Linked DNA regions of Homo sapiens. The protein of the gene in region 1 interacts with the protein of each later gene in a pairwise test. Each region holds a gene or a part of one and is shown in the gene's direction. Other genes may lie near its edges.

Region 1 (7,356 bases):
GCAAGTTAAATGCCAGATTGACATTTTGCTTTATAGTTTATACAAGCATGTGTGTGTTTTTTTCTCGCAGAGAACCATGGAGTCTGGCAGTACCGCCGCCAGTGAGGAGGCACGCAGCCTTCGAGAATGTGAGCTCTACGTCCAGAAGCATAACATTCAAGCGCTGCTCAAAGATTCTATTGTGCAGTTGTGCACTGCTCGACCTGAGAGACCCATGGCATTCCTCAGGGAATACTTTGAGAGGTTGGAGAAGGTAAAAATAAATGTGGGGAGATGATGAGGTGATTGTGACAGTTGTTACATTTAATAACTGGAATGTTACTAATTTGTATTTTTTGGAAGAAAAGGAATCTGACTAAATAAAAAGTCTAAAACAATTTCAAATAAGAAATACAGTTAAGGCATTTGTAGTAATTTAAAAATTCTTAATTAGTAGAATTTATCAGAAAAATGAACCTGTATGCTAACTGTACTTGGCTAATAAAGGGTTTCCAAACAATTCTTTGTAACTTTTTAAATTAGTGCGTAGAACTATAACAGATAAAACTGATCAGAACTAGTATAGCAGTTCTATGAATAAGAAATTCTATAGTTCTTAAAGGCAGTTAATGCTCCTCCCGTTTTGAACAAAGCAAGTAAGCGTAGTAAATCTTATCCCACTTTTAAAACTAGTGTAATGAAACATGAATCTAGCTTGTGACTGATATATCAGAAATTTTCAATTAGATTCGGTCTATTTTAGTATAGAGTATATCTGATAAATTACTGTAGAGATATTGATATTGATGTTCCTCAAAAATTTTACTCCATTTTATTGGTCAGGACTTGTTGCGCCTTGAAAAAAATTAATCCAATTTTTATTCTTTTTTGCTCTTCCTCCTTGCTTGTATGTCATTGTGACCTACGTATATGGCATATGTTTTTCTAAGCAAAGTGATAATTTTACATCAGGGATAATTGAAGCAAATGAATGCTTCAATTCATCTCCCTCAAGAAACGATGAATGAAAAAGTCTGGGTTACCAAATATTTTGAATAGTTTATGTGATTCGCTTCTGTAAATCAGTGAGAGAAACTTACTGATTTTCTTGTGCATGTGGAAGTTATGAGGTGGTTCATAATGATTATGAATTAATTGAAATGAATCATATACCAAAAGAAATGATTCATATACCAAAAGAAATGAATCATTTCTTTTGGTATATGATTATCTAATTGTATAATAGAAATAATTTGCTTTATTTTCCATTGGTTTTTATAGTTTCTTATAATCAGTATAGTTTATTAGTAAAAGAATCTGTACTAAGCTTTAAAAAGTATTTGGGTAGCTCATTGATCAGGTATTTTCTATTTTCTTTAAAAACTGATTGTTAAAATTTGTATTTAGTACCATGATCAGAATAATTAAAAAAAAAACAAAAACAACTAGTCACTGTGAATGTTGCTTTGCTGTCTTGGAATTATAGTAGATATTCTGGCTTTCTCTTATTTATGCAATTTCCAAATCATGGAAGTATTGTAGAGCCAGGTCATAGATGTAGCTTGTTTTGAAGTCAAGTGCATTCCTGGAGATCCGGTTTTGAAATGGGTCACTGTAAGGTGATCCCTCTTCTTTGGACATCAATAGAAACCATCAAATGAGAGGATTAAGTTGGTGAGACATTAAGTGTGTATCTTTTTATAGGGAGTGTTGAATGTGTGATGCTAGTTTCAAAGCTTGTAGTTGCCACAGTACTGTTTAAAGACTAACAAAGGTGGAAAGCAATAAATAATTATTAAAATGGTTTCTTTGCAGATGGAATTTTTAGATTTAATGTGTTTCAGCTTCTTTAACTTTTAATAATTAAAGTCACAGTTCAACATGGTTTTTGCTGTAATTCAAGGGTCTTTGTTCACATGTATACATTCCTTCCAGGGTTGAATATAGATACCTGGACCTTTAAGTAATTAGATTTTCAACTTGTTAGTGGGTCATAGTTCTGTGTATTAGGTGTTAATTTGTATGTTAGTCTATTAGTCCGTTGTCATGCTGCTAATAAAGACATACCGAGGCTGGGTAATTCATAAAGGAAAGAGGTTTAATTGACTCACAATTCAGCATGGCTGGGGAGGCCTCAGGAAACTTACAATCATGGCAGAAGGAGAAGCAAACCCATCCTCTTCACATGGCAGCAGCAAGGAGAAGTACAGAGCAAAATGGGAAAAGTCCCTTATGAAACCGTCAGCTATCGTGAGGACTCACTCACTATCATGATAACAGCATGAGGGTAACCCCCCTGCCATGATTAAGTTACCTCCCACCAGGTCCCTCTCAGGGCACATAGGGATTATGGGAACTGCAATTCAAGATGAGATTTGGGTGTGGACACAGCCAAACCATATCATTCCACCTCTGGCCCCTCCCAGATCTCATGTTTTCACATTTTGAAACACAGTCATGCCTTTCCAACAGTCCCTCAGAGTCTTAACTCATTCCAGCATTAACTCAAAAGTTCAAGTCCAAAGTCTCATCTGAGGCAAGGCAAGTCCCTTCCACCTATGAGCCTGTAAAATCAGAAGCAAGTTAGTTACTTCCTGGGGTCATTGGGTAGATAACACCCATTCCAAATGGGAGAACTTGGTCAAAACAAGGGGAGTATAGACCCCGTGCAAATCCGAAATCCAACGAGGCAGTAATTAAATCTTAAAGTTGCAAAAGGATCTCCTTTGACTCCATGTCTCACATTCAGGGCACACTGATGCAAGAGGTGGGCTCCCGTGGCCTTGGGCAGCTCCGCCCCTGTGGCTTTGCAGGGTACAGCCCCCCTCCTGGCTGCTTCCATGGGCAGGCATTGAGAGTCTGTTGCTTTTCCAGGTGCATGGTGCAATCTGTTGGTGGATCTACCATTCTGGAGTCTGGAGGATAGTGGCCCTCTTCTCGTAGTTCCATTAGGCAGTGCTGCAGTGGGGACTCGGTGTGGGGGCTCCAAACGACCCCACATTTCCCTTCCGCACTGCCCTAGCAGAGGTTCTCCAGGAGGGCCACGCCCCTGCAGCAAACTTCTGTCTGGGCATCCAGGCATTTCTGTACATCTTCTGAAATCTAGGGGGAGGTTCCCAAACCTCAGTTCTTGACTTCTGTGCACCCACAGGCCCAGCACCACTTGTAAGCCACCAGGGCTTGGGGCTTGCACTCTCTGAAGTAATGGCCAGAGCTGTACCTTTTAGCCAAGACTGGAGCTGAAGCAGCTGGAACGCAGGGTACCATGTCCTGAGGCTGCATAGTACAGGAGCCCCAGGGCATGGCCTAGGAAACCATTTTCCCCTCCTAGGCCTCTGGGCCTATGATGGGAGGGGCTGTCCTGAAGGTCTGTGACATGCCCTGGAGACATTTTCCCCATTGTCTTGGTGATTAACATTTGGCTCCTTGTTACTTATGTGAATTTCTGCGGCAGGCTTGAATTTCTCCCCAGAAAATGGGATTTTCTTTTCTATTGCTTTGTCAGGCTGCAAATTTTTCAAGCTCTGCTTCCTCTTGAATGCTTTCCTGCTTAGAAATTTCTTCCACCGGATACCCTAAATCATTTCTCTCAAGTTCAAAGTTCCACAGATTTCTAGGGCAGGGCCAAAATACTGCCAGTCTCTTTGCATAGCGAGAGTCACCTTTACTCCAGTTCTCAAGTTCCTCATCTCCATCTGAGACCACCTTAGCCTGGACTTCATTGTCCATATTACTATCAGCATTTTGGTCAAAGCCGTACAAGAAATCTCTAGGAAGTTCCAAACTTTCCCACATTTTCCTGTCTTCTTCTGAGCCCTCCAGACTGTTCCACCCTCTTCCTGTTACCCAGTTCCAAAGTTGCTTCTGCATTTTTGGGTATCCTTGTAACAGCACCCCACGCTCTGTGTACCATTTTACTGTATTAGTCTGTTCTCATGCTGCTAATAAAAGACATACCCAAGACTGGGTAATTTATAAAGGAAAGTGGTTTGACTCACAGTTCCTCATGGCTGGGCAGGCCTCGGGAAGCTACAATCATGGCAGAAGGGGAAGCAAACACATTCTTCTTCACATGGCAGCAGCAAGGAGAAGGGTCAAGCAAAAGGGGGAAAAGCCCCTCAAAACTGTCAGATGTCATGAGAGCTCACTATCACCAGAACAGCATGGAGGTAACCACCCCTGTGATTAAATTACCTCCCACCAGGTCCCTCCCACAATATGTGGGGATTATGGGAACTATAATTCAAGATGAGATTTGGGTGGGGACACAGCCAAACCATATCAGTCTGAAAATACAGTCATATTCTCATCACCTTCTTCGTCATTACTGGGGGGTTGTGTTTCTGTTACCTTCAACTACTCCATAAGAAATGTACCAAAAACTCTTGACAGTTGGTCTTTTGAAAGCTTCTGCATTTTAATTCAGTCATCTGGAATTTGAGTCTTCTTTTACTCTTGTATTTATTAGACCCTTAGGTAAGAGGAATTAAAATAACAGTGACCTTGTGTCTGCTGTGTCAGGTACTGTGTGAAGCACTTTATATACATAAATACTCGTTATTTCAAATGTACGAGGTATGTGATTTTCAGCATTTTATAGACATAGCAGTAAAACTGAGAGAAATTAAGTAATGTGGCTGTGGTTATAGACTGTAGTCGTCAGCTTTTGCTGGAGCAACATACAACCCCCAAATTTCAGTGGTTACTACAACAGACCAGTCATGTGCAGTTCTTCTGGTATCAGCCTGTCTTATGTTCTTGACACCACATATCTTGTTCTGGGGCTGAGCAGAAGGAGCAGCCCTATATAGGGCATGCTGTTCTCAAAGCAGAGGGAGGGCAGAAGCTCAAGGTGGACAGAGCCAAACCACACAGGCAACCATGGTATGGCATGTCCACTTACATTCCATGGCCAGAGCAAGTCCTGTAGCCAAGCCTTAAGTCAGTGGGGTGGGAAGTATACTTTACCCACAGGGAAGAGTGACAGAAGCAGGGAGGGAACAAATAATCGGGAAAACATAGTAGTGGGGACAGAATTTGAACCTAAGAGTCAAGAAGATAGTGCAGAATTTAATGCAAAACCGAATGCAGAATTTGAACCTCAGAGTCAAGAACATAATTAACCACTGAGTAGACTGGGAGGTTTTTTCTAATTTTTAATTTTTTATTGATATATAACATTTGTATGTTTTTATGGAGTACATGTGATATTTTACAGGCATAGAATGTGTAATGATCACGTCAAGGTATTTAGGTTATTCATCACCTCACTTAAAGAGCTGAGGAGGAAGGAGACTGACAGAAGGATGACAACAGCAAGAGAAAGGATATAAAAATATATCATAGTATATACTAGAAAACTCATGATCTGAGTAATGGCTCTGAGTTGTCAGATTAGGTTATATTCAGATTGCTGTTTTTAAAAGACTCACTAGAATCCATGAGACACTGCTAAAATCAGAATGCTTTTGTTACTTCAAAATTAATCTTAAAAATTCAGTGAAGTAGAATGTAGTCCCAAGTGAAATGTTATTTGTGAAATTTTTCCTGAAATTTTTGTGAAATGTCAGTGACAAATTTGGGGGTGGGAGAATTTGTGTTTTCATTTATACTCTTAAACTGTGTGTGTGTTTTATTTTATTTTTATTATTATTTTTTTGAGACAGTCTTGCTCTGTCACCCAGGCTGGACTGCAGTGGTGCAATCTCGGCTCACTGCAACCTCTGCCTCCTGGGTTCAGGCGATTCTCCTGCCTCTGCCTCCTGAGTAGCTGGGGCTACAGGTGCCTGCCACCACACCTGGCTAATTTTTGTATTTTTAGTAGAGATGGGGTTTCACCATAATGGCCAGTCTGGTCTTGAACTCCTGACCTTGTGGTCTGCCCACCTTGGCCTCCCGAAGTGTTGGGATTACAGGTGTGAGCCACCATGCCTGGCCTATTTTTTGAGACAGGATCTCACTCTGTTGCCCAGGCCTGAGTGCAGTGGTGCGATCATGGCTCACTGCAGTCTCTACCTTCCAGGCTCAGGTGATCCTCCTGCCTCAGCTTCCCAAGTAGCTGGGACTACAGGTGTGTGCCACCACGCCCAACTAATTTTTATGTGTTTTTGTAGAGATGAGGTTTTACAATGTTGCCTAGGCGGGTCTCGAACTCCTGGACTCAAGTGATCTGCCACCTTCGGCCTCCCAAAGGGTTGTGATTATAGGCGTAAGCCACTGTACCCAGTCATGTATTCTTAAACTTTAAACTTGGGAGAGACTTGAGTTTTATACCTGTGTTAATATGAAATGAGAAAACCTTACTGGTTATTGGAACAACCAGAATTAACATGAAATGAGTTTTCTAAAAACCATATTTTAAAAAGTAGGTTACATATTCACATATTTCAAAGTTGTGCAGGTACAAAGGGGCATAATAATGAAAGGTCTCCCTCCCACGCCATTGCTTTTCTTGAATGCTGCCAATGTTCTGGAGATTAATATATGGGCACTTACAAATTTATATATAGAAAAGAAATAACGGGTCAAATGAATGAGAAAGTAGAAGATAACACATTTTTATTTTTTCCCTTTTACTTCAGGCACAACAACTAATTCTTTAGATCTGAGAGGAATTTGTTTTTAAGGCTCTAGATGTGAAAAAAGGAATGTTTAATAGTTTATCTTAGGTTTTATTTGAATTGGTCCAATAAGTAGTTTTTAAAAGCAAGTAAACTCTTTTTGTCTTTTAACTTCAAGTTTAAACCTTGATTACAAAGAGTGATCCTAGCTCTGCTGGGAGAAGTATTATAGATACGATCTCGTTTAAATTCGTGGTTACCATCACATCATTTCATTATTTGTTTTTATCTGGGATCAAACTGGAATGTGAATTCCACAGGCTCAGGACCCTCTCCTATTTGTTTTTAATTTCCTGTTGCCTAGCATAGGTCTTGGCCTGGCAGATCCAGAAAATGGCTTATTGAGTTAATGAAATAACTCAGTAATCTAGACATTCTTGGATCACTATGTTGGGCTTGAATTGTTTTTCCTGATAACATTTCTTTTGGCAGGAGGGTCTCTTGCTATCTGCAGTAGCATCCAAAAAAACCCAATTTTCAGGATTTTGTCTTGCAGTGTGTTACTGTTGTGTGCATCACAGATAATTGTTGTCAAGACATTAATGAATATCTGATTTGTTACTCACATGTTATGTGAGTACTAATGGCTTGTACTAATGACTTTTGCCCATTAATAAAGGATAGCATCTGTTATCATCTGAGGTACATTCTGTTGAGAGTGTTTCAAGTGTTACTCTCTTTTTTTCCCCTTTGGAATTGGTGTTTTCCTCTTAACTTACATTGTTAATGGAAGAAGAGATTGGAAGTGACTGAGATA
Region 2 (9,326 bases), on another chromosome or scaffold:
AGCGCCACCCTTTGAGAAGCGTGCCTGGAGTGGATGTTTTAAAATGAGCCTCTCTCTCCCGCCTCTAGCCAGAGAAAAAGAGCTTTGAGTTTTCTGTGAGCTAAGCTTTTCTTTTTCTGCCAAACTGGCCTTCAGTATTTTTTTTTAAACCCACTTAGCATAATTACAAATGCATAGAAGAAGGAGAGTAAAGGGAACTGTAGTCAGGCTTTCGGAGGGCAGGAGAGCATGTTTGTTTGAAGTAAGTAATCAGTTGCAAGGTGAACGGTTTACAGCTGCTGAACAATTGTGTGGAGTCTCGCAGAAGATTATGTTTATCCGGGCAGTTTTGCTTACAGAAAGGTCCCCTTAAACCTCCTTAAGGGCCTGTGTGGGCCCTGGCAGAAGAGGCCGGGGTTCCTGCAGCAGCTCACCAAAATGCTGGCCTTTGAAAAACTTGCTCTTTGTGCATTAGAAAAAGGGCTGGAATCTTTTTTTTTTTTTTTTTTCCCATTTACTGATTAAACAACAACAGAAGGTTGTTAAAGAGGACGAGCTTCTGGTGAAGTCACGTGTCTGCCAAGGGAATCTGTACCCGGGTGTGTATCGAAACAGAATGGCCTTCTCTAAAGATTAACTTAAGTGGCTTGCCCTCATCGAGCCCCTTCCTATGTATGGATTAAAAATAATTTTCGATACCAGTGGAGGAATGCTGTTGTCCTTGGTCTGCTGGTGGCCAGCTTCCTAAACGGCATTTTTTATTTGCTTCTCTCTGGTAGGCCTTCGCTGTTGGTGAGGAAACATTGAACTTTGTCCAGGGCATTTGAGCTAAGCTGTTTGAATAACCAAGAGGGCCAATTTCCCCACTGCAGATTGGAAGCAAGGGCAGTTTTTTCTTAGAACTTCCAAATGGAGCGTGTTCTTCTTAGGTATCGTACAAAGGAAATGCCTGGGTTACACCTTCCACATGAGTTGACTTACATGGTATGAGAAGGAAGAAATTGTGGCTGGAATCCACTCCTAAATGGTGTCTTCTTACAGTTCATCATGGAAAAACAAGATAATTACAAATTAATCATAGATGTTGGTCATGCCTTTACAGAGGGGGTTTAGAAGCAAATTGAGAATTCCCATAAGAGGGTCTGTCTCTGTGTTCTTAAGACTATATCCATGCGGCCCATTCAGTAAGTTGTATCTGTTGGTTGGATTTTAAAATAGATGATTTAATCAGTGCATTTAATATCCTAATATGGCATCAAAACTTGAACATTGATATGGCCTGAAATCTGTTGAAAATGATCATATTGAGTAAAGAAAGTCTCTACCCACCGGTATTAATAACAGGGTGATCTGTTTAGAAATTACATTTTCTCTGATACATCAATGAGTTTTGCAAAGGAGAGAAAATTGATGGTACCTGTAGTCAAGTCCAGTTCCAATACTGCCACAGAATTTTTCTTAAAAGTTCTATTGTAAATAATAGGCCACAGAATATTCCTTCACTTTCTGGGATGCAAAATGGATTCGTAAATGCTGTACCACAGGAGTGAGTATTTACAAAAAATATGCCAACTGGCCCACTTACAAAGCTATTTATAGAAGTCCTACTTTTCAAACTATTTTTTTTTTAACCTGTAAAGGGAAAGTTAATTCTTGTTGGTTTTATGAGTAGTGAACAGTGGCTATTAGAAATCAGGTAGAAGTAAAAACAGCAGTTTTCCAACTTCTTCTTCTTTTTCTTGAGACCAAGTTTCGCTTTTGTTTCCCAGGCTGGAGTGCAATGGCGTGATCTCAGCTCACCACAACCTCTGCCTCCCGGGTTCAAGCGATTCTCCTGCCTCAGCCTCCCGAGTAGCTGGGATTACAGGCATGTGCCACCATGCCTGGCTCATTTTGTATTTTTAGTGAGATGGGGTTTCTCCATGTTGGTCAGGCTGGTCTCAAACTCCTGACCTCAGGTGATAGTCCACCTTGGCATCCCAAATTGCTGGGATTACAGGGGTGAGCCCCTGCCCCCGGCCTCCAATTCCTTGATCATAGAATCTCTTTCAAAAAAAATGAGGACCCCAGACAGTTTTTGTTTTTGTGGATTATAACAGTCAATAAGTCATCCTGTTAGACATTAAAACAGAAATTTAAAACATATTTAACAATCTATTTAAAAGTAATGGTAACAGGCCAATTACATGTTACATACAAAAATGTATGTAATATATTTATTGTTTTTATATTTTATTTTTATTAAATATATATATTTTTAGAATAATTTATACTTTTCTATAAATATAAAATACAAATAAGTTATATTTATATAATTTAGATGTAAATAAAAACAATTGATATTTTTATATAAATATATAAATGTGTACACTTATGGGGCACAGTGTGATGCTTTGCTGTATGTTTGCATTGTGGAATAATTAAACTAATATCTATCACCCGCTATTTTTCCTTTGCGGTGGGAACATTTAAAATCTCTTTTAGCTATTTTTGTTTTTTATTTCCATAGGTTATTGGGGAACAGGTGGTGTTTGATTCCATGAGTAAGTTTTTTAGTGGTGATTTGTGAGATTCTGGTGCACCCATCACCCAAGCAGTATACACTGCACGCAAGACATTTAAAATCTCTATTGGCGGGCCGGGTGCGGTGGCTCATGCCTATAATCCCAGCACTTTGGGAGGCTGAGGCGGGTGGATTGCCTGAGCTCAGGAGTTTGAGACCAGTCTGGGCAATACAGTGGAACCCCATCTCTACTAAAATACAAAAAATTAGCTGGGTGTGGCAGTGTGCGCCTGTAGTCCCAGCTACTTGGGAGGCTGAGGCAGGAGAATGGTGTGAACCTGGGAGGTGGAGGTTGCAGTCAGCCAAGATTGCGCCACTGCACTCAAGCCTGGGCAACAGGGCGAGACTCCGTCTCAAAAAAACCAAAAAAACAAAAAAACAAAAACAAAAATAAAAACCTCTTTTAGCTATTTTGAAATATGTAATACACTATTAACTATCGCCACCACGCTGTGCAGTAGGTCACTGAAACGGATTCCTCCTGTCGAACAGAAACTTGGTACCCTTTGGCCATGTGCTGTATGTTTTTTAAAAGAAAAATGATTGTCATTTCCAAAATAACAAAAACCTAGGGAGAAGAGTGGCTGAGTTTTAGGGTTTTGTCAGTCTCATCCATAAAGGGACGGATGGCGGCTGGCTCCTTCCTCTGCTTCTTCACACTGGTCTCTTGCGACGTGTCGTTCTGGTAAGAGTCATGTGAGGCACATCCACTGGCCTCTCATGGATGTGCAATTGGAAACGTGAAATCGCCGGCCCCCTGAGAGCGTTTTGGGGAGTGTCCCCCCCAAACCCCCCTCCCCCCGCACTGGGGATGCTGCACCAGTCTTGAAGAATGAGGCAGTGAGAGGCTGGTTTACAGCAACCTTTATTCGTGGCCTTGTGTGCTCGGAAGCGCTGCAAGGGAGGAGGAAGGAGGAAGGAGGGTACTCACTGCAGAAGGTCAGCTCTGCTGTGGCTGTTACGTGGGTTCAGGTGGAACCCACCTACTGTGTGGACGGTTCTTTACCTGGGAATCCCATGGAATTCTGACAGCAGGAGACGTGGGAGGGAGCTTCTTGTTTCTCCTTCCAGGAGTCACTTGGTTAGGGGTTTGGGAATTTTGGCTCTTAGTACAAAACTTCACTCCAGGTACTAGACCTGTTTCAGCCAAATGATGATCATCATAATAGAATAGAAACCTTTGTTCACCTAAATAATAACAATAATATTAATAATAATAGAATATAAACCTTTGTTCATGGTACTGGGGCGTCTTTCAGCCCAATAATAATAACAACAATAGGAATAATGATAATAATGATAAAATATAAACCTTTGCTTCACGTCCTGGAACGTCTTTCAGCCAAATAATAATAATAATATTAATGATAATAGAATATAAACCTTTGTTCAGGGTACTGTGACTTCTTTCAGCCCAGTAATAATAATAATAATAGTAATAATGATAATAATGATAGAATATAAACCTTTGCTTCATCTCCTGGAACGTCTTTCAGCCAAATAATAACAATAATAATAATAATGACAATAGAATATAAACCTTTGTTCAGGGTACTGTGACCTCTTTCAGCCCAGTAATAATAATAACAGTAGTAATAATGATAATAATGATAGAATATAAACCTTTGCTCCAGGTCCTGGGAGCTCTTTCAGCCAAATAAGAATAATAATAGAATATAAACCTTTGTTCACAGTACCAGGACCTCTTTCAGACCAACAATAATGACAGTAATAATAATTATAATGATAATAGAATATAAACTTTTCTTCTAGGTACTGGGACCTCTTTCAACCAAATAATAATAGTGGAATATAAAACTTGGCTCTAGGTACCAGAACCTTTTTTCAGCCAAATAGTAATAATAAGAATAGTATTAATAGAAAACAGACCTTTGGTCCAGGTACTGGGACACCTGTGAGCCAAATAATAATAATAATGATAATAATAGAACATAAACCTTTGACTGAAGTGCCAGAACCTTTTTCAGCTAAATAATAATAATAAAATATAAACTTTTGTTCCAGGTACCCGGACTTCTTTCAGCCTAATAATAATCATAGAATATAAACCTTTACTACAGGTCCTGGCACCTTTCTCAGCCAAATAGTAATAAAATAGAATATAAACTTTTGTTCTGTTACTGGGACCTCTTTCAGCCTAATAACAAAAGTAATAATAATAGAATAAAAACCTTTGCTCCAGGTTCTAGAACCTCTTTCAGCCTAATAATAATAATAATGATAGAATGAAAATTTTTGTTCCAGGTGTCGAGACCTCTTCCAGCCTAATAATAATAATAATGTAATAATATAAGCCTTTGCTACAGGTACCAGGACCTGTTTCAGCCAAATAATAATAACAGCAATGATAATAGAATATAAACCTTGGCCCCAGGCACTGGGACTTCTTTCAGTCAAACAATCACAATAATAATAATAATAATAGAATATGGATGTTTGCTCCAGCTTTCAGGACCTCTTTCAGACAGATAATAATAACCGAGTACAAACTTTTCTTCCAGGTATCGGGACCTCTTCCAGCCTAAAAACAATAGTAATAATAGCATATATATCTTTTTTTTTGTTTTCTTCTTTCTTTGAGACGGAGTTTTGCGCTTGTTGCCCAGGCTACAGTGCAATGGCGCCATCTCGGCTCACTGCAACCTCTGCTTCCCGGGTTCAAACGATTCTCGTGCCTCAGCCTCCCGAGTAGCTGGGACTACAGGCATGTGCCACTACCACGCCCGGCTAATTTTGTATTTTTAGTAGAGGAGGGGTTTCACCATGTTGTCCAGGGTGGTCTCAAACTCCTGACCTCAGATGATCCACCCACCTTGGCCTCCCAAAGTGCTGAGAGTACAGGCGTGAGCCGCTGTGCCTGGTGCCAGCATAAAAATCTTTGCTACAGGTACTGAGACCTTTTTCAGCCTAATAATAATAACAACCGTAACAATAATAATTAGAATATAAACCTTTGTTACTGGTACTGGGACCTCTTCCAGCCTAATCTTCATAATAATAAAAATAATAATAATAATGGAATTGAAACCTTTCCTTCAGGTTCCAGAACCGCTTTCAGCCACATAATAATAATAATAATGATAATAATAATAATAAATAGAATTTAAACTTTTGTTTGAGGACTGGGACCTCTTTCAGCCCAATAGCACAAATAATAATAATGGAATGTAAACCTTTTCCTCCCAATTACCAAAACCTGTTTCAGCCAAATAATAATATGATGATGATGATGATGGAGGATCTGATACAGCTGTGTCCTGTCACTCAGGTCGGACTTAGGAGGCCTCTTGAGATTCTTTTCCCCCTCCGTTGACTGTGTAATCCAGGGGCCCCACCCTAACTCGGCTGCAGAAGATGCAGTTTGGGGGTTCCTCGTTTTGTGGAAGTCCCGGTCATGTTATTCATTCTCTCAGCACCTTAGAACAAACCAGGGTGCTGGCATTGGCCACAGGACCCCCCTCCTTGCACCCCAGTCTTGGGAAGTGGCACTGCTGGGCTCTGGCAATGCCCAGCTCACCTGGCACGTGGCGGCGTCTCCCTAAAAAGCACTGGGCGGGCACCGTTGACGGAAAGCCAGCAACGCAGGCCGCGACTGCCCGTGAAGACGGGGGGCCTTTCTAAGACCTCCACTCATTATTTCGGGCAAAATTAACCTTCAGAATACCTTGCTTTAATAAAGTACCAGAAACCGGAGGGCTTAAAACCATAGCTTATTCTCTCCCAGTTCTGGAGGCCAGAAGTCTGTAATCAAAGTGTCTCAGGGCTGCGCTCCCTCCGGAGGCTTACGCGGAGGGTGCTTCCTGCCTCTCCCAGCTCCTGGGGGCTCCTGGCGTCCCTGGGCTTCAGGCCAGCCACATCATCACTCTAGTCTCTGCCTCTGTCTCCATGTGGCCTTCTCTGTGTCTGTGTCTCCTCTTCTGTCTTTTATAAGGACATCTGTCACTGCATTTAGGGCTCACTCAAATCCCGGATGATCTCATCTCCAGATCCTTAACTCATGAGATCTACAAAATTTCTAATAACCAAGTAAGATCTCATTCCACATCCTGGGCTTTAGGCTGTGGACAGATCTTTCTGCGGGCCACTGTTCAATCCACCATGATTTTATCCAGTTCATTGTGGAGGCTCTAGAGGAGGATCCTTCCTGCCTCTCCCAGCTCCTGGGGGCTCCAGGCGTTCTGGGTTTGTGGCCGCATCACTCCAGTCTCGGCCTCTGTCTCCATGTGGTCTTCTCCTGTGTGTCCGTGTCTCCTCATCTGTCTTCTATTAAGGACACTGGTCACTGCATTTAGGACCACCTCAATTGAGAATAATCTCATCTAAAGATCCTTACCTTCATTATTAATACATCTGCAAAGACCCTTTTTCCAAACAAGGTCCCATACACAAGTACCAGGTGGATACAGATTTTCTTTGGTAGGGGAGGACGCTTTTCAACCCACTATAGTCATCATTGAAATATGCCTCCTTGCACTGACTGTATCCCAACACTCTGAACGTGCCTGGGTGGTGCATTTTGATATTTACCCTCCTGAGCACTGTACTGGACACTTGGAGACACAATTACACCTTTTAACAAAGCCCAGCTGTCATTTTGGGCAACCCAGTCACAGAGGTGGCCTCCTGAGTGGCAGCTGGAAGGGCCTGTATGTGTGAGCATTCAACCTCAACAGGAACCCTGGGGACTGGCTTCTGGGTCATCTAAGCCTCCACACCGACTGCCTGATGTTTGCACAGGTGTGTGATATTTGCCCAGTTGGGCCTTTCTGCCCACAGGTGTGACTGGACACAATGGGCATTTTGAGAAGTTCCAGGGATTGAGAAATCCATGCTTCTTCAGACGTGCTTACAGATCACGGATGCACCTGTGACGTTCCACATGGCTTCATTTTAAACCATAAAGTTTGAGAAGAGTGTGCAGTGCCTCTTAGCCATAGGAAAGCTGGCTTTAGTCAGATGGAGGTCCTGTTTGGCTTCTTTAATGCAGTGAATGAAGCTCAGGTGGCATTCAGAGAGTCCTGCTGTGATGGTTGGCAGTGGGGGGTCTGCCTGGCCACTTGTGGATTCTTCTATGTAGGCTTCATCCCCAGAAAAGATCTACGCAGCTTTCCCACGTGGCAGGTGCTTGGGAAACTCTTAGGACAGGAACAACAAGCCCCTGCGATGACAGAGGCATTGTCAGGCTGGGCGCGGTGACTCACGCCTGTCATCCCAGCACTTTGGGAGGCCAAGGCGGGTGGATCACCTGAAGTCAGGAGTTCGAGACCAGCCTGACCAACATGGTGAAACCCTGTCTCTACTAAAAATACAAAAATTAGCCAGGCGTGATGGCAGGTGCCTGTGATCCCAGCTACTGAGGAAGCTGAGGCAGGAAGATCGCTTGAACCCGGGAGGCGGAGGTTGCAGTGAGCTGAGATCACGCCATTGCACTGCAGCCTGGGTGACAGAGCGAAACTCTGTCTCAAAAAAAAAAAAAAAAAAAAACTAAAGGCACTTGTCAGGTACAGCCCTGCAAAAATGCCGTGCTCACTCGCAAACCTGTATGTTGACACGTGCGGCATCGCTGCAGTCGGATTAACGTGGAAGAAAGAGCGTATTCCTGCGCTAGGTTCCCTCCTCCACTCTGCAAAAGTGACCCGCAAGGAAGGTCCAGCCGTCCGGCCCCAGTGCCCTTTGGTTGAAAGCGGAGCTGCCCCGGCACCCTGTCTGTCTCCCCGGCAGGGCTCCCGTGCGTGCCTGGGTCCCTTCTCATGCTGTGTTTGTCTTGGCCCTTCTCAGCAGGTCCCCACGCATGAGCAGCCGTCCAGCAGGCAGGCTCCGGTGGAGAAGCAATGGAGAATAAAAGCCTGGAGAGCTCCCAGACAGACCTGAAGCTGGTGGCCCACCCCCGCGCCAAGAGCAAGGTGTGGAAGTATTTCGGCTTCGACACCAACGCCGAGGGATGCATCCTGCAGTGGAAGAAAATCTACTGCCGCATCTGCATGGCCCAGATCGCCTACTCCGGAAACACCTCCAACCTGTCCTACCACCTGGAGAAGAACCACCCCGAGGAATTCTGCGAGTTCGTCAAGAGCAACACGGAGCAGATGCGTGAAGCCTTCGCCACCGCCTTCTCCAAGCTGAAGCCCGAGTCGTCCCAGCAGCCCGGGCAGGACGCGCTGGCCGTCAAGGCCGGCCACGGCTACGACAGCAAGAAGCAGCAGGAGCTGACGGCCGCCGTGCTGGGCCTCATCTGCGAGGGGCTGTACCCAGCCTCCATCGTGGACGAGCCCACCTTCAAGGTGCTGCTGAAGACGGCCGACCCCCGGTATGAGCTGCCCAGCCGGAAGTACATCTCTACCAAGGCCATCCCTGAGAAGTACGGGGCCGTCCGGGAGGTGATCCTGAAGGAGCTGGCCGAGGCCACCTGGTGTGGCATCTCCACCGACATGTGGAGGAGTGAGAATCAGAACCGCGCCTACGTCACGCTGGCCGCCCACTTCCTGGGCCTGGGCGCCCCCAACTGCCTGTCCATGGGCTCCCGCTGCCTGAAGACCTTCGAGGTGCCCGAAGAGAACACGGCGGAGACCATCACGCGAGTGCTCTATGAGGTCTTCATCGAGTGGGGCATCAGCGCCAAGGTCTTCGGGGCCACCACCAACTATGGCAAGGACATCGTGAAGGCGTGCTCCCTGCTGGACGTCGCAGTGCACATGCCCTGCCTGGGCCACACCTTCAATGCCGGCATCCAGCAGGCCTTCCAGCTCCCGAAGCTGGGGGCGCT

Evidence for each region. Proteins that work in one complex are often made in the same cells at the same time.
Region 2: the proteins of PRKAR1A (region 1) and ZBED1 interact in binary tests that used the Homo sapiens proteins (3 or more experiments, as listed by UniProt).

What each region holds. Positions count from the first base shown.
Region 1 is NC_000017.11:68,515,324-68,522,679, forward strand, and holds part of PRKAR1A (cAMP-dependent protein kinase type I-alpha regulatory subunit), read left to right. Parts: intron 1-70; 5' UTR 71-76; coding exon 77-253; intron 254-7,356. UniProt on the Homo sapiens protein: Regulatory subunit of the cAMP-dependent protein kinases involved in cAMP signaling in cells.
Region 2 is NC_000023.11:2,489,788-2,499,113, reverse strand, and holds part of ZBED1 (E3 SUMO-protein ligase ZBED1), read left to right. Parts: intron 1-8,341; 5' UTR 8,342-8,394; coding exon 8,395-9,326.